2 separate regions of the Homo sapiens genome follow, and region 2 is linked to region 1. Evidence: fine-mapped expression QTL. A gene starts in region 1. The other region holds a variant in brackets. All regions are shown on one strand. Distances are between the middles of the regions. Region 1 holds the start of CLEC16A (C-type lectin domain containing 16A). Region 2 has its middle 68 kb from the start of SOCS1.

Region 1 (8,326 bases):
TCCCCACCCAGCTACCCCAAGGGCCACAGTACAAAGGTGATTCGTGCCTGGCTCCCTGTGTCTTCTGACACCCCTAAATCTTTATCCTTCTAGGACAAGCGAGAATCCCCCAAAAGCCAAGGTCATCATCAAGCCAGGATGAGGACTGGAGGAGGAGCTGACAGCTCTGCCTCAAATGGATTTGGGAGCGAAGGCTTTTTCCATAAGCTTTGGGGGTAAGTCACAGAGCTACCCCAAATGTAACTTAGTCTCGGGGTCTCCTTCCTTTTCACCAGCTGTCCCCTTTGCTGGAGGAAGCTTTCCAGCCCAAACGAAGGGCTTAAGAGGAGTCTGGCCATTCCTGGCATCCAGTTAGACCTGGAGGAGGTGAACGGAGGAGAAGCCTGAGGGAGGGGTGTGTATCCGGCCTGGGAATTCCTCCCTCTCCCTTGCTAGCGCCCCAACCCGCCCTCATCCTGTTCAGAGAGGGCACTTACAGGCCTCGGAGGCAGGGGAGGGTCTCCTCCTGGGGAACCATCCCCGTCCAGATGGTGCCCCCAACCAGCTGCGGCGGCATGATCTGGGCGGCTGGTCCAGGGCATGGGTTGCGGATCGTGTAGGGAAGAGGGGAACAGCAGTCGAGACCCTACTCCAAGTACGCATCAAAGACGTCGAGCTCCGAGTCAGCATCGTAAAGGCCCGAGCCGGGGTCGGAGAGCACGCCGAGGTCCACGAGCGCCTGGTCCATGTCCTCGGGCAGGAAGACGAGGCCCACGTTGAGGACGATGTACTCCATGAGGAAGGCGTAGTACAGGATCAGCACATTGACGAAGAACAGGCCCACGTAGAACATAGAGGGCAGCAGCGGCGGCGGCACGTAGGGGACCAGGGGGCCCAGTGCGTCCAGGTGGGCCGCGACCCGGGCGCCGAGCATGCAGCGGGTGGCAAGGGCGGCGGCCCGGCGATCCCGGCGAACTCAGCCGCTGCGGCGCCCGGGCGGCCGGCGAGGGCACAGCGCAGCCATCCAGGGGTACCCTGGAGCCCGACAGAAGCAGGGCCGGGCTCCAGATGTCCCCTGGCAATTGCGCCCCGACCCCCGAAATGCGCCGGGCGGGTCACCGCACCCCGAGATGTGCCCCCAAGGATCTCTCGACCGCCCGGGCGGCGAGGCGGGCCCCCCTGAAGTGGCCCGCGGCTGCCCGGCTCCCTCGTGGCGCCTCCCTGGCGCTCGCAGGGCCTCGCAGAGCCGGTGGGGATCCCACCGCGGCTCAGTGTCTAGGGCCGGTCCCGGCAGCCTTCTCTCCCGCCCCGCCCCGCAGGTCCTCGCGCACCCCCCGCGCCCCCGCAGGCCCAGCACCCATGGCTGCGGCCGCCGCGTAGCCCTCCCGGTGGCGCTCGGAGCTCCGCCTCCCGAGGGGCCCCGAGCTCATTGGCAGGCCGCCCCCTGCACGCGCTAATTGGCCGGCTCAACGCCCGCGCTGATTGGCTCCGGCCGCCAGGGGGCGGGTACCGCTTCGCTCCGCCCCTCGGGGCCCTAGCGTCTGAGTTGCTTTCCTGGTTCGGGTCTGCCCTCAGATCTCAAATCGAATTCGCTCTGCGTATCGAATAGGGGGAGGTAAAAGAGACTGAACACAGTTCAAACCTAGACATAATGCTAAGGCCGCAAAAGCCGAAGGAAACCCGGGCTACCGCTGCACCTTGCTGCATGCCTCTTTGGGACTCCGTTTCTCCTTTAAAAGGAGGCGGGGTCGGGGAGGGGCGACGGACGGTTGCCCTGGAAATTTTGGACATTCCCAAAGCGCCAATTTTCATGGTGGAGATCCACCAGTGTCCCCTTCGCTTCTCCAAACTCTGGTTGCTGGAAGGTCCGCCCACTACGGAACCTGCATCCTAGAGTTAAGGAACACCTGAATAAAGAGATTCCGAGGTAGTTCAGATCTTCAACCATAAGGATGCTTTTTGTTTCTTTTTACTTTGTGAATCATGTTTAAAAGCAATAATACACATGGCTAAACATTCAAACAACCGTGAAGTACACAGAAAAGTGAGTCTCTCCCACCCACTGGTTCCCCTGCTCTTGGGTAACCGTTGCATGTCTTTCAGGAAAACATGATCTCGCCCAAAGAGCCTTCCAAAGCAGTTCAAGAAACCTTTAAATCTCAGGCCACACTGAGCTGAGTATTTTACATGCATCGCTTAATCGGAGGTATACAAGGCAGTGTAGTATGTATGTGCGTACTTTTTACAGATGAAAAATACGAGCCCAGGGATCCTACATTTCTGAGCCTGGGTGTGTTTCTTTGGAGGCCAGATCCTGTTCTTTTTTGCTCCATGACTTTGTCTTGCCCCACTCTATATGAATTACAGGACAAACCATTAACTCTCCACTCTTATCCATTTCTCCAACTGCTGAAGGTGAAACAAACCTTTACTCATTCATGCACTCTACCAATATTTGTTAAACACCTGCTATGTGCCAAACCTTGTGCTAGGCACTGGGGAGAACATTGGCCTCTGGCCCAGTTCTTTCTTGAGCAGAGTTAATGGGACACAGTGGACCTTTAATAAGGTTGATATGTAGAAGTGACTGAATGAATGAATGGATGGTAAACTTGAGAAGTCTTGCCCACACTGAACTTACCACTTCTAATCCAGGGTAGAAGTTAGATATATTCTGGCTCATGCAGAAAGTTGGGTGTTTCCTTTTTCATTTTAACGTGGTACTTTGGGAAATAGCATGGATTCTGGCTGAAGACCAGAGGAATCCTCTGGAAGTACAAAATGTTCAGTTTGGTGCATTGTTGCATCCAGCCTTTTCCAACACACACACACACACACACACACACACACACACACACACACACACACACACACACTTAATTGAAGTGGAAAAAGAAAAAGGCTGTCAGGACAAATAAGGTTGTTATCTAGTGCCGTTTTGGTTTATAAAGGGAATGAAAAATAAGGGTGCGTGCGTGGTTATGAACCCTGGTTTTGCCACTTGTTAACTGCATGATCTTGGGTAAGTCAACCTCTCAGTGACTCCGTTTCCCTGATGATAAAATAGGTTCGATAATAGTACCCAATTCATAGGATGGTTGTGAAAATTAAATACCTTAATATGTAAAGCCCTTAGGATAGTGGCTTTGCATAGTATACACCATCCAATACTATTCTTATTCTTATTATAAATCTAGTAATTGTTACTACAGTGGTGACTTTCCTTGACCCATCTACGCCGATTCCCTCTCCGGGACTGCGCCCAAAGCTTCCAATTCCCGCCCACCCGGAGGATTCTGCGGTCGCTCCTCCTCTCGCCCCGCCTTTTGTGGATGGCCGTAGGCCCGCGGTTGCACGATGCATGCCGGGCCTTGTAGTCCGTTCGCGGAGTCCTGCCGCCGAAGGCCACGCGGGTGAACTGCATTTCCCAGCGCCCCACGCGGCGGCGGCCGTAAAGCGCGGCGGTCGAACGGCCGGTTCCGGCTGAATGTCAGTGCTGGGCTGTGGGCCGGGGAGGAAGGCGGCTCGCGGTTCCTCCACCGCCTCCGCCGCCGCATCCTCCGCTTGTGCTACCGCCGCGGGCGCTGGGCCGCTCTGCTGGTCCGGCATGAGACCGTGAGACGAGAGACGGGTCGGGGCCGCCGACATGTTTGGCCGCTCGCGGAGCTGGGTGGGCGGGGGCCATGGCAAGACTTCCCGCAACATCCACTCCTTGGACCACCTCAAGTGAGTGTGGGGGGCGTAGCGGGAGGCCTCGGGGCTGGACAGGGGGACGGGGCGCCGAGCTCCGGGTCGGGGCTCTAGGAGGCGTGAGAGCGGCGGCGAAGGGCGCCCGGGGAAGCCCGTGTGGTGGTTAAGAGCGAGGGCTCGGGAGTCAGGGCGCCTGGGTTCGAACCCTGACCCCGTCGCTCTTGGCTGTGTGACCTTGGACAAGTCGCTTAATTTCTCAGAGTCTCCGTATCCCCACCTGTAAAGCGAGAGGATGCGATTTCAGTTTATGGACACAGACTTTGTTCTTGACGGTGTCCACCAAGTTTCCTGGCGGGGTACTTCTTAAACTGAACAGCTTAGAGGGTCAAAGGCCTGGGTCCTGGAGTCGGGCAGATCTGGGTCCGAATCTATCTGTGTGAATGTAGGCCTCAGGTTCCCCACTTGTAAAAAGAGTAGAGTGACAGCACCTGCTTCCTGCTATTGTGTTGAGAGTTGGTTGGATAAGAGAATGAACGTTAAGCTCAGAACACGTACAATTGCTCATTAAACGGCATTAATTATTATAAAAGAACAGATTATTTTCCGAGGGGAGTCTAAGCTGGGGGCATGCACGCTGAGACCCAGGATTTTGGGGCGATTGGGGAGGATGATGAAAAATAGAGACCTCTGAGGAGGGAATGACTCTACAGCTCTGGGGGAGGACAGGTGGCAGATAGGGTCTTGGGACCAGGAGTGCAGAAATTAAGAGGCTGGCTTTGCAGCCACACCTGCGTTCAAATCCTGAAACCACCATTTACTGGCTGTGTGACCTTGGGCAAATTACTTCACCTCTCTGAGCCTCCAGATTCCCATTTGCAAATGGGGATCGTGAACATTGTAATGGAAATGGAAGGTGACTGACCCAGTAGGTACATAGTAGGTGGCCAGTAGTGGTAGCTGTGTTTATTATCAGCTCAGCGAGGCCTTCCCAGACCACCCTACCTAACGTGCTCCCCCCATCCCAGTTCCTATCCATCACATCTTTCTCTTGCTTTCATTGAGTGCTTCTCCACTCTCTGCGATTATTCTTTATTTTTTATTTATACTTATTTTCTGTCTTCTGTTAAACTGGCACTTCACGAGGGCACAGACTGCTTGGTTTGTTCACAGTTGTATTCCCAGCATCTAGGACTGCTCTCTGCTTACTTAAAGAGTGGAAAAATGAATGATTGAATTGGGGAGAGATGAAGAGCATGCAGGCCAGGACCCAGGATTTGGGGGCAGGTGTGGAGGATGATGAAAAATAGAGATCTGTATGAAGGGAAAGGCTTTAGGGAGGGAAATGGCGGGGATGCTGAAGAGGGGAGTAGACAAATCTTCAGTGTCAAGAAATAGGCAGGTTTCCAGAAGGAGATCCTGAGACTACTAATGGGAAAGGAGGAAGATAGGGTTAGGGATATGGTGGGAAGTAGTGGAAGGGAGACGGGGCTGTGGAAAGGATTGGTGGGAGGGAATTAGATAGGGACTTCTCATGTGTCCCCGGGAGTGGGGTAGGGGTAGTGGCAGGGCCACAGTTCTCAGCTGTGACCTTTCTAGCATGGAGCAGCATTTAGTAAACGTTTGTGAGTCTTGAAGAGTGGGGAGCAGGAGGGTTCACTATGTGGTGAGGGGCACTTTTAGAGCAGGAGGTGGTGAGAGAAGACAAGGGGAGGAAAGAGGCCCAGGACAAGTCTGGGGTGGGTAGGGAGGTGGGGATCTTAGATGGGAGGGCAGCTGGCCGGGAAAGGGAGTGGTTGAAGGATTTCAGGAATTTATCGAGTGGGCGGAGGTGGCTGAGGAGGGGAGGGGAGTTATCCAGAGGAGGTTGGGCCTCCTGCCGGCATCCAGGTACCTCCAGGTTCTCACCTAACTCTGCTTAACTCTAGCCCTTTTAAATTACCTTAATTTATTAATTTATCGAATGCATTATTCTGTACCAGGTATTTGCTAAGGACTGCCTGTGTGTTAATTCCCTTAGTCCTCACAAGTCTGAGTTACAGGAACCATTATTGTTTCCATTTTACGGAAGTGGAAACTAAGGTTCAGGGGGCTTCAGTGACTTGCCCCCAGGTGTCAGCAGCTGAAGGGTACCAGAGGCAGGATTTGACTCCCGAGCTTGTGCTCATTATACTGTCTTTCTGAATAAAACTTCCCAATAAGTCTGTTTGAGAACACTTTTGACTTGGCTGAGTCTCATCGCCAATGGGGCATCTTTGCCAGCCAGCAGGGAATGGTAAACGGTCTCTGGTTCCTTTGCAGTATCCTGGGAACTGCCTGGGTTCATTGTTTAGATCACATGTCTATCGGATGCTTCTTTGGAAACCCAAGTTGCCTGCCCTGAATCAGGCAGATCAGCTTAATCCATATTACAGCCCCAAGAACCTGAGATTTGTGTATTGGTGGGGGGGTTAGAAGATCCCCCAGTGACTTGGAAAAGAGTTTTGTAAACAGCCAGTGCCCACCCTGGGGCTTGTGCCACTCTGCATTTGGCTCTGTTGGTAAACATCTTGGGTCTTGGGTACAGAACAGCTCGTTCCCTGAGGGAGTTTGCAGGCTGGTGGGGGAGACAGCTGTAGAGCCAGTGACTGTACAGTGTGATAAGTGCTGAGATCGCCATGGACCCAGGGTTCTGTGGGAACCCTTATTGGGAGCTTTCTGGAGGAGACAACACCAGCGCGGGTTCTCCAAGAATGAACAGAAGCCACCATTGGCGGGCAGCAGGGGCGGGAGGCGGAGCACTGTGACCAGGACCCTGCGGGTTTTGTGGCATGTCCAGGTGGGGGCTGATAGCTGTGGGAAACAAGGCTGGAAGTAGGAAGGGGCTTGGGATTTATCTGACACTTCGGGTGACCAACCGTCCTGGTTTGCCTGGGCTGAGGGGTTTCCCAGGATATGGGACTTTCAGTGCTAAAACTGGGAAAGTCCTGGACAAACTAGTATAAACTGGTCACCCTACCAGTGACAAGTGACAGTTCTTAATACACTCTTACCTTGACCTAGAGCAGTATGGATGGAGAGGGAAAGTTTAAGATAGTTAAAAGAATTATTTATTTATTATTATTATTTTTTAAATACACAAGGCATCTGGAAACCCTCTTCTTTTTTTTTTTGAGATAAGAGTCTTGCTCTGTTGCCCAGGCTGGAGTGCAGTGGCACGATCTTGGCTCACTGCAAGCTCCGCCTCCCGGGTTCACGCCATTCTCCTGCCTCAGCCTCCAGAGTAGCTGGGACTACAGGCGCCCGCCACCACGCCCAGCTAATTTTTTGTATTTTTAGTAGAGACGGGGTTTCACCGTGTTAGCCAGGATGGTCTCGATCTCCTGACCTTGTGATCTGCCCTCCTTGACCTCCCAAAGTGCTGGGATTACAGGCATGAGCCACTGCACCCGGCCTAGACTTTACTTTTTTAGAACAGTTTGAGATTTACAGAAAGGTTGAGAAGATAGCACAGAGAGCTGGAAACTGTTTTTAGCTTCATTATTCTTTGTAACACTCCCAGCTTGCAAACTGGAAAGGAATTTTCCTGTTAGGGTTTTACTTTTGCTAAATGGTAGAAAACTTCATACCTGTGGTCTCTGTCTGCTGAACTGAGTTAGTGATTTAGCTCAGGCAGATTGAAGTAGTCAAGAGGTTATTTGCTACACACCATGGGTGGTTTATTGTCCAGATTAGTGGCAAGGCTGTGACATTGACTGACAAATGTCCACCACCAAGCGGAAGCCTGAGTGATGGAATCGTTTGATTGCTACTGAAACATCATCTTTACCAGGGACTGCAAGTCTGCGGCTGGTAGAAATTGGTCGTTTTTGTATTGTGGCCTTCATTCTGGTCCACTTTGTGTGGGGGTCAAGATTTTTGGTTCCAGTGACAGAAACCCAGCTAGAATTGCCTTAAGCCTCAAATGGATTGAATAGCTCATGTCACTGAATGGTCTGTCCCCGCTAAACCATGGCTGAATCCAGGTGTTTGGAGCCGTCAGAAATCGGCCTTTTTCCACCTTTCAGCTCTACCTTTTTCCTGTTGGTGTCATTTTCAGGCAGGCTGCAGGCTTACATCATATCAGCTTAGCATTCCTGAGGAAAAAGAGAGCTTCTTTTCTCAATATTGCCAGCAGAAGTCCAGAATTGAGATTGAGTATCCCTGGACCAGCAAGGTCTCATGCCACCCCTGAACTGTCACTCTGGCCAAAGGTATAGGGGGATCTGATTGGCCATTCCTCACTCATATTCCCTTCCCTGGAGCAAGAGTGGGATTAGCTCCACTCAAGCTAGTGGAAAAGAATGAGAGAAAAGAGTGGTTCCCCATGGGAGAATCAGGGGTTATTGCCCAAAGAAGGCGGAGAATGGATCCATGGCAGGTAGACAGACGCACACCTACTCTTGGTGCTTTCAAGTTTTGGCTAAGGTGGCACTGACAGTGTTAGAGCTTGGGGTACAATATTGCCATGTTGATTTTCTTAAAATATCGTCTTCACCATGCCACATATTATGGGTCCTAGGCTCCCACTATGTCACGTCTAAGTTCTTCCAGGCCTTCCCACCATCTAGTTTGGGAGCACAGGGAGTTAGGAACATCCTTGTTAGGCAGACGCTGTTTAAATGGAGACCAACGGGGTGAG
Region 2 (8,326 bases), 240 kb after region 1:
TTAAGAGGAAGACTTTTCGCTGGAAACAGAAAACCAGCACCACTGCAGCATTCATTTCCTAGGGCCGCCATGACAAATGATCACAAACAGGGCAGCTTAAAACAGTAGATATTTACTCTCCCACAGTTCTGCAGGCCAGTCTAAAATCAAGTTGCCAGCAGGGCTGCTCCTCCTGGAGGCTTAGAGGGAGAAGCTGCCTCCTGCCTCTCTCCCAGCTCCGGTGGCTCCGGCACTTGGCGTTCCTCGCCCCATGAGTGAATCACTCCAGTCCCTGCCTCTCCCCACAGCACCTTCTTCCCCGTGTCTGTGTCAAATCCCCCTCTCCTTTCTCTTGAAAGGACAGCAGTCATTGGATTTAGGGCCCGCCCTGATCGACGGTGGTCTTAACTCAAGATCCTTCATTTCCTCTGCAAAAACCCTATTTCCAAATAACGTCACATTCACAGGGACCAGATTCAGGACATGGACACCTTTTTAGAAGGGCTCACCATTCAACCCATTACCCTTGCCAGAAATTAAAGATATAAAAACAAATGCAGCACAAGCAAATCCATATCATTAAATTTTTAGCCAGGTCCTAGCACCTGCCACAGGCTCTGGGCCCAGCCTTGCCTGTGCCATTAATAGGGGAGGCCTATTGGCGCCTAACCAAGATTTTCTCAGTGATAGGATCAGAAGAGCTAAAACGCCGGGCATGGTGGCTCATGCCTATAACCCCAGCACTTTGGGAGGCTAAGGTGGGCAGATCACTTGAAGTCAGGAGTTCGACACCAGCCTGGCCAACACGGTGAAACCCCGTCTCTACTAAAAATACAAAAATTAACCAGGCCTGTGGTCCCAGCTACTCAGGAGGCTGAAACAGGAAAATCGCTTGAACCCAGGAGGTGGAGGTTGCAGTGAGCTGAGATTGCACCATTGCACACCAGCTTGGGCAACAGAGTGAGACCCTGTCTCAAAAAAAAAAAAAAAAAAAATGCTGACAGAAGAAAAGAACCAGCTCACTCTGGGACTAGGGTATTTAAGTCTGAGTCCTTGTACCCCTAAATGTCATCCCAGATCAGAGATGCCACTATGACACACACATATCACAGTGTGTTGCGAACTGTGGAATTCTTTTTTTTTTTTTTTTGGAGACAGGGTCAAGCTCTGTCACCAAGGCTGGAGAGCAGTGGGGCGGTCATAGTTTACTGCAGCTTCAACCTCCTGGACTCAGACGATCCTCCTTCCTCAGCCTCCCAGAGAGCTGGGACCACAGGCACATGCTGCCGCTCCTGGTTAATTTATTAATTTTTTCATTGCGAGAAGGTCTCACTTGTGCAGGCTGATCTCAAACTTCTAGGCTCAAACAGTCCTCCTGCCTCAGCCTCCCAAAGCACTAAGACAAGAGGCGTGAGTCACAGCGCCCAGCCTTGCAATTCTTATTTCAGTTCTCCCTCTCCAATAGACTCACCCACAGGCAACGACTGTGTTTTATTTTCACCTGTTCTGTGGGAGCTGGGTGCAGGCTCTGGCCCATGAGCTCTCTGTGCATGTATGTTGGATGGATGGATGGACTGATGGATGGAGTCATTCTTGGATACAGTTCCAGATTCTTAAAGCCTGAATTCCATTCAGTTCTCCATGCCCATGGCCCTAACTTTCAGCCTCTCCCTATGTGTGCTCACTCTGGTGTCTTCCAGGCCTTACCAGGGCCAGCCAAAGATCTTCAGGAGAATTTGCCCGGGCCAGGTTGCCAAGGGTAGGAGTGTTTGAGGGCTTTCCTCTGCCACCATCAGAAATTCTGTGTCCCCCAACCCTCCACAGGTATCTGAGCTGAGACCGAGCTGCTGCTGGTATCTCAGTGATGAGCGAGACCTCAAGCAGGGTGGAGTAGGTGGCAGTGCAGGCTTTGGAGTTGCTGACGAGGTTCAAGTCCCTGCACCAATGCTCCCCATCCCTGTGGCCTTGAGTACATGGTGAAACCGCATGAGGCTCAATTTCCTCATCTGTAAAATGGGAACCTTTCTGGCAGTGTCCTTGCTTGTGTAGATGAAGTGGGGGCAGGTAAATCAAGCACCTGTACCCAGCCTGGCACATGCAATTTCAGCCAGGGGGTCTCACCAGCGGCCCAGCCAGAAAAACAGGCTTCAGCCCAGGCCCAGGCCCCCTCAGTTACATGTACCCCCTGAGGTACAAAGCCAGCACCTGTGGGGTACAGCTGAGCCCTGGAATTTTTTAAGGTCCCCAGCTGATCCTCAGAGGCAGCTGTGATGATTCAGTTTATGTGTCAGCCTGACTGGGCTAAGGGGTGCCCAGATAGCGGCATGACATGATTTCCAAGTGTGACTGGGAGGGTGTTTCTGCAAGAAAGTAGAATTTGCAGTAGGGTGAGGTGGCTCATGCCTGTAATCCCAGCACTTTGGGAGGCTGTGGTGGGTGGATCACTTGAGGTCGGGAGTTCGAGACCAACCTGACCAACACGGTGAAATCCTGTCTCTACCGAAAATACAAAAATTAGCTGGGCGTGGTGGTGGGCACCTGTAGTCCCAGCTACTCAGGAGGCTGAGACATGAGAATCGCTTGAACCCAGGAGGCAGAGGTCTGCAGTGAGCCGAGATTGGCCACTGCAGTGAGCCGAGATTGGCCACTGCACTCCAGCCTGGGTGACAGAGTGAGACCCTATCTCAAAAAAAAAAGTGGGGGCTGGGGGAGAGAGTAGCATTTGAAAGAGTAGACTGAGTGAAGAAGATCACCCTCACCACTGTGGGCGGCCACCATTCAATCCATTGAGGGCCCAAATAAAACAAGGAGGAAAAAGGTAAAATTTGCTTTCTGCTTGATCCCGTATGTCCATCTTCGCCTGCCCTTGGACATCAGAGGCCCTGGCTCTCGGGCCTTCCAGCTTGGACTGGAACGACACTGGCTTTCCTGGGCCTCCCAGCTTGCAGACGGCAGATTCTAGGACCCCTTGGCCTCCAGAATTGCATGAGCCAATTCCCATAATACAGACGGCCCCCAACTTATAAGGGTTCAACTGACAATTTTTCAACCTTATGACAGGTTTATCGAGGTACTAAAGTTGTTTTCAACTTAGGATGTGTTTATTGGGATGTAGCCTCATTGTAAATTGAGGGGCATCTGTAAATCTCATTTTTAATTTAATTTTATTTTAGAAACAGGGTCTCACTCTGTCACCGAGGCTGGAGTGCAGTGTTGCCATCAAAGCTCACTGCAGCCTCGAACTCCCAGGCTCAAGCGATCCTGCCGCCTCAGCCTCC[G/C]GAGCATCTGGGACTACGGGCGTGCGCCAGCACACTTGGTAATTTAGTTTTTTTTGTCTCACTATGTTGCCCAGGCTGATCTTGAACTCCTGGCCTAAAGTGATTATCCTGCCTCAGGCTCCCAAAGTGCTGGGATTACAGGCATGAACCGCAGTGCCCAGCCTATAAATCTATATATCTATACCTGCCTACCTATCTACCTACCTATCTGTATCTCCTGTTGGTTCTGTTTCTCTGAAGAATCCTGACTGATACAGCACCCAAAATAAGAAGCCAGCCTGGCCCACCTCTGCAGCCCACCCTGGCTACACCCCACCACTTGGAGCACACAAGCCCTCTGCCCTGTCCTGGAAGACCCCTCAACTGATTCCCCTCCCAGGACCTTGGCACCTGCCTTTCCTCCCTCCAGCCCCCTCCCCAACCTCTGCACCTGCACCCATCCTCTGTCGTTATCCTCCGTCCACAGAATCAGTGTTACTTCCAGGGACTATTCTGACGTCAGACCCCTGCTTTCCTCCATCAGCAGCTGCCACCCATTTCTTTCCTGGCGTTTGTCACACCTCAAAGGATTTTTGTTTCTTTGCCATGAGCAAAATCTCATGGCTTTCGTTTGGGGAACCCCTGACATCAGAGGCCTGAAAGGAGGACACAGTGCTGCTGGTTTATTTGGGTAGTGGCCCCAGGAAGCTGGAGTGGGAGCTGGGAGAGAAGGGCAGGAGGCCAGTAGACAGGGCACAGCTGGCCTGGTCACCGCCAGACACTGCTGGGGGCACTTGATACTCAGCCTCTCTGGAGCCCCTCTGCAGAGCTGCATAGATGAGCCTTGGGACTGGTCCTGGGAGGGGCAGGAGGTCAGGCATTTATCCCCCAACTCTCATGCCCTGTTGGCTGAGGACTGTCCCATGCCATGAAGGTCCTGCTTCCTCCCAGCTGCCTCGCCTGGAGCCGAGATGGCTCCTGAGTGAGCTCCTCATTTGGACAGAAAATTGGAGACTCAACAGGCACATGGGCTGGAAGACTGGTGGGGGCCTGGGGACCTGGAGTGGATGCAGGGAGGCGCTACCAGACCCCAAACACAGTAGCCACACCCCCCAAACCAGAGGTTACAAATGGGCAGCCCCTGGGTCCAGTGCAGCCCCTCTGTGTGTTCCGTTTGGCCATCAAAGGCTTTTAAAAGAACCATTGAGCCAAGATTTTAAACGTCGGGGATCTGGTACAAATACCTGGATTCCTGGCTTCTCTTTAAAAATCACATGTGAGGATCTTGGGCCCTTGTCCACCTGGATAGAAGTACGGACCAGTCTTTGGCAGGTGTGGGCTCCCCACCCTGTCAGCTCCCCCAACACCTGGGCCTAGGGGCAGACTGGTGATCGGTGGCTGGTACAGTATTTTCTCCTTACCCTGACCCCTTCACCTCCAGTAGCCCTTCCGAACCCCTGGGTCAGGTGCAGGGAGCTCAATATTTGATTAGCCCAGCCCCTGTGGGTAAACTGAGGCCACCCTCCTGAGCACTCTCCGCTGCTACCCGCATGTCCCCTCCCCAAGAAGGCAGCTAAAAATATTCAAGTTGCTGCCCTATGGGCCGAGACCCAGGGCCTCCTCACTCTCTCATTCCACCTCCGCCTGTGTGCCTGCTTGGGCTGCATCCTGGGGACACAGAGGTGACCTGAACACAGCCATTGCCCTCACAAAGGACAGGATCTAACAACAGACAGGCAGACCATGACTTCCCAGCTGTGGCATCTGCACACAGGGCACAGAAACTAACTTCTTAGGCCTCCATTTCCTCATCTGGAAAATGGGTCGCTCCCTGGGTTCCCTCTCCCCATTTGCATGCCCCAGCGGATGGTAGGAACCACTCCGCTTGTTCATTCAATCCCCGTGTTTGTTCTTTGGCTCCACTCTGCAGCACTAGCTCCCGGGCCAGGCTGGGCGTGGCGTAGATGGAAGATGGTAAAGAAGCCAGCTAGAAAGGCAGGAACGCAGCGTGACGGTGCCATACCCAGAGGGCCTGCCTGGGCAGCCCCCAGAGGCCTTCAAAGCTACACTGGAGAGCTTGGCCGAGGGACCAATGGCAATGGCACACACTGAAGTGTTTTACACAAAAAAAACCGCCTGGCTGGATGTGGCTGGCAAGAAGATGGCCGGAGCTGCAGGTGACGAGTGATCAAGAGGAGCCCATGGCAGTGGGGACAGGTCACAGCTGAAGTGGGTGACCTGCAACATGTTCAGCAGGTAAAATTGACAGGTTTGGTCGGACTGGCCACAAGGGAGAGGACGGGTAAAGGACAGCTCTTGGTCTCTGGCCAGGCCGGCGGCTCAACAAGTGTCCAAACAAACCATCCGTGTGCCCGGTGTCTACCTGAGCTGCCGTCACCTCTTCCTTTGCCGGGTTTCATTTTTCTCTTTTGCTGTGTTGCTGCAACTGGTTGCCAAAAGGACTGCACAGCTCTCCTGGCAATTTGGCAAAGTCTAGAACAACAGTATTTCCCATAATCTCACCATTAAAGGACAACCCTTGTGGACATCCTGGCAGATTTCTTTCTGGTCTTTTTTCTATGCATTTTAGAATTGAAATAACACAGTGGGTGTCATTTCATGTCATGCTTTTGACCCAGCGTGACATGATATGGTTCATCATTTCTCCACGATCCTGGAAACTCCATTTTTTTTTTTTTTTTTTGAGATGGAGTCTCATGCTGTTGCCTAGGCAGGAGTGCAGTGGTGCCATCTCAGCTCACCGCAACCTCTGCCTCCCGGGTTCAGGCAATTCTCCTGCCTCGGTGTCCTGAGTAGCTGGGATTACAGGCATGCACCAACATGCCCGGCTAATTTTTGTATTTTTAGTAGAGATGGGTTTTCCCCATGTTGCCCTGCCTCATCTCAAACTCCTGGGCTCAAGCAATTTGCCCACCTCAGCCTCCCAAAGTGCTGGGATTACAGGTGCGAGCCACTGAGTCTGGCCATGGAAACTCCATTTCTAAAGTGTGTAACAAGTTCTGCTGCAGGGAATGTATCCCTGTGGCTAGCTGTGCACCCTCATGGTCTATCCACATTTTATATTACCTCCCCAGAAGAGGTCCTGAGCATGGGAATTACTAGATCATAGAAAGGTAAACCATCTTAAGACTCTGGCTACAAATTGCCAGATTGCTTTCCAAAAATATTGGACCACTGACACTCTCACCAGCGATGTACACAAGTGCCCATCTCACCACAGCCTCCCCACCGCCAAATGTTGTACATTTTAAATCTTTCCCGATTTACAGCCCAGCTCAGAGTTCACCTCCTCTGAGAAGCCTCCTCAGATTTCCCCTCTCCATCCTCGACATTCCCACAGCCAGCGGCCCCCCTCCCTCCACTTGTCCCTAGTCCATCCCAGCTGGAGGTCTGACGTTCCAGGGCTGGAGTCTCCTCTGATCCAGGTGAGGCCCCCAGCAGCTTCCCAGCCTCAATCAGCCTGCATATTTTGAGTCTCTTGTAGATGGTGGGAAGCCTTCTAGTAGTATCATCTTCTTTTACAGAACAGCAACTGAGACCCAGACCAGGGAGGCTGAGTGACTGATCCTGAGTCACACAGCTATGAGGCAGTGTTGCTGCAGCTAAAATAGCAGCAAAAACTCCCACTTAATGGGCACTTCCTCCAGGCCAGGCTTAGCTAAGCAGTTTCTAAGCCTAATCGGAGTTCATACTCCCAATAACCTTGCTGCGCTGGGACTATTATTATCCCCATGTTACAGATGGCGGACCCTTGAACCAGGGCCACTTGGCTGAGAAGCGAAGTCCCCCCTGGGACTTGGACCTAAAATCTGAAGTCGGCAGTGCCTTGAGCAGGAGTCCACGAGCCTGGTCCAGTGCCCTGGGCCTGGCATCCTTTGCCTCTCACAGAGCAGATACAGGCAGCCAAAGACAGAAGGAGCCCCCACCCCACACCGTGACCAGGGCCAGAGCAGGCCTTGTGCCAGCTCCAGGTGCCACAGCAGGGCACCTGCCCCACCCCGCCCCCACCTTGGGTTGCCCTGCAGATTCACAGGAACAGCCTGGAGCCCACCCAATCTCAGTGGCTTCTCTCGAACATGCTTATCTCCCACCCCTTATTGACTTGGGGCTTTTCCTGCCAATCTGCCCAAGCGGGAACAGCCCTTTTCAGAGTAACTGCTGCCAAAATCCATTGGCGCAGCGCACCGTCTGCCTGGGCCTTGATGGCATCTGTCATGAGAGGTGGGAACTAGAAAGCCCCATCCTCGGGCCCCTCCCCAGGAGGCTTCAGCAGGTGGAGAGGGAAGGCTTGGCTTCTCCCAGGACTTGAACATTGATCCAGCAAAACTTAGCTGGGCACAGTGGCTCACATCTGTAATCCCAGCACTTTTGGGAGTCTGAGGTGGGAGAATCACTTGAGCCCAGGAGTTTGAGACCAGCCTGACCAACATGGCGAAACCCCATCTCTACTAAAAATACAAAAAATAGCTGGGTGTGGTGGCATGCGCCTGTAGTCCCAACTACTCAGGTGGCTGAGGCATGAGAATCGCCTGAACACAGGAGACGGAGGTTGCAGTGAGCTGAGATCATGTCACTGCACTCCAGCTTGGGTGATAGAGTGGCACTTTGTCTAAAAAAACAAAAAACAAACAAACAAAAAACGTTGACTGAGCACATACTGTGTACCAGACACTGTACAGGTCACTAGGGAGGCAGCAGTAAATGACTCAGACAAGGGAGGGAAGGACCTCCCAGCAGGGGACATAGGCAACAAAGAAAATTAAAAATAGGTAAATTCTATAAAAATACAGCCAAGGAAGGGGGATCAGCAGGCCAGTAAGGGGAAGAAAGGAGCTACCGTTTTAAACCAGGAGGTCAGGGAAGGTTGTTCTGAGAAAGGACTTTGAGCAGAGATTGAAGGAGGTGAGTGAGAGAACCTCATGGATGTCTGGGGTGACAGCACCCCAGGCAGAGGGAACAGCCAGTGCAAAGGCCCTGGAGCACCCTGGAGGAGCTGCGAGCACTGGCATGGCTGGAGAGGAGCTAGGGAGAGTAAGGGTAGAGGTGTCAGAGCAATGATGGGGAAGACC

Evidence for each region. PIP is the estimated chance that this variant, and not a neighbour inherited with it, causes the effect.
Region 2: its variant is fine-mapped to the expression of CLEC16A in whole blood (TOPMed, PIP above 0.99).

What each region holds. Positions count from the first base shown.
Region 1 is chr16:10,941,093-10,949,418 of GRCh38, forward strand. It overlaps CLEC16A (C-type lectin domain containing 16A), which reads left to right and starts at 3,472. Exons shown (of 24, transcript NM_015226.3): 1 at 3,472-3,705. The coding sequence starts at 3,626. DEXI (Dexi homolog) reads right to left here and starts at 1,376. Exons shown (of 2, transcript NM_014015.4): 1 at 477-1,376. The coding sequence starts at 913. The coding sequence ends at 626. It also overlaps a transcript of CIITA not described here. RefSeq lists a silencer at 966-1,515 and enhancers at 3,085-3,264, 3,485-3,544.
Region 2 is chr16:11,183,954-11,192,279 of GRCh38, forward strand. No RefSeq gene overlaps it. Among named protein-coding and RNA genes, the nearest start is that of SOCS1, 68 kb to the right of the region's middle. The variant G/C (reference allele first, on the strand shown) is at 3,258.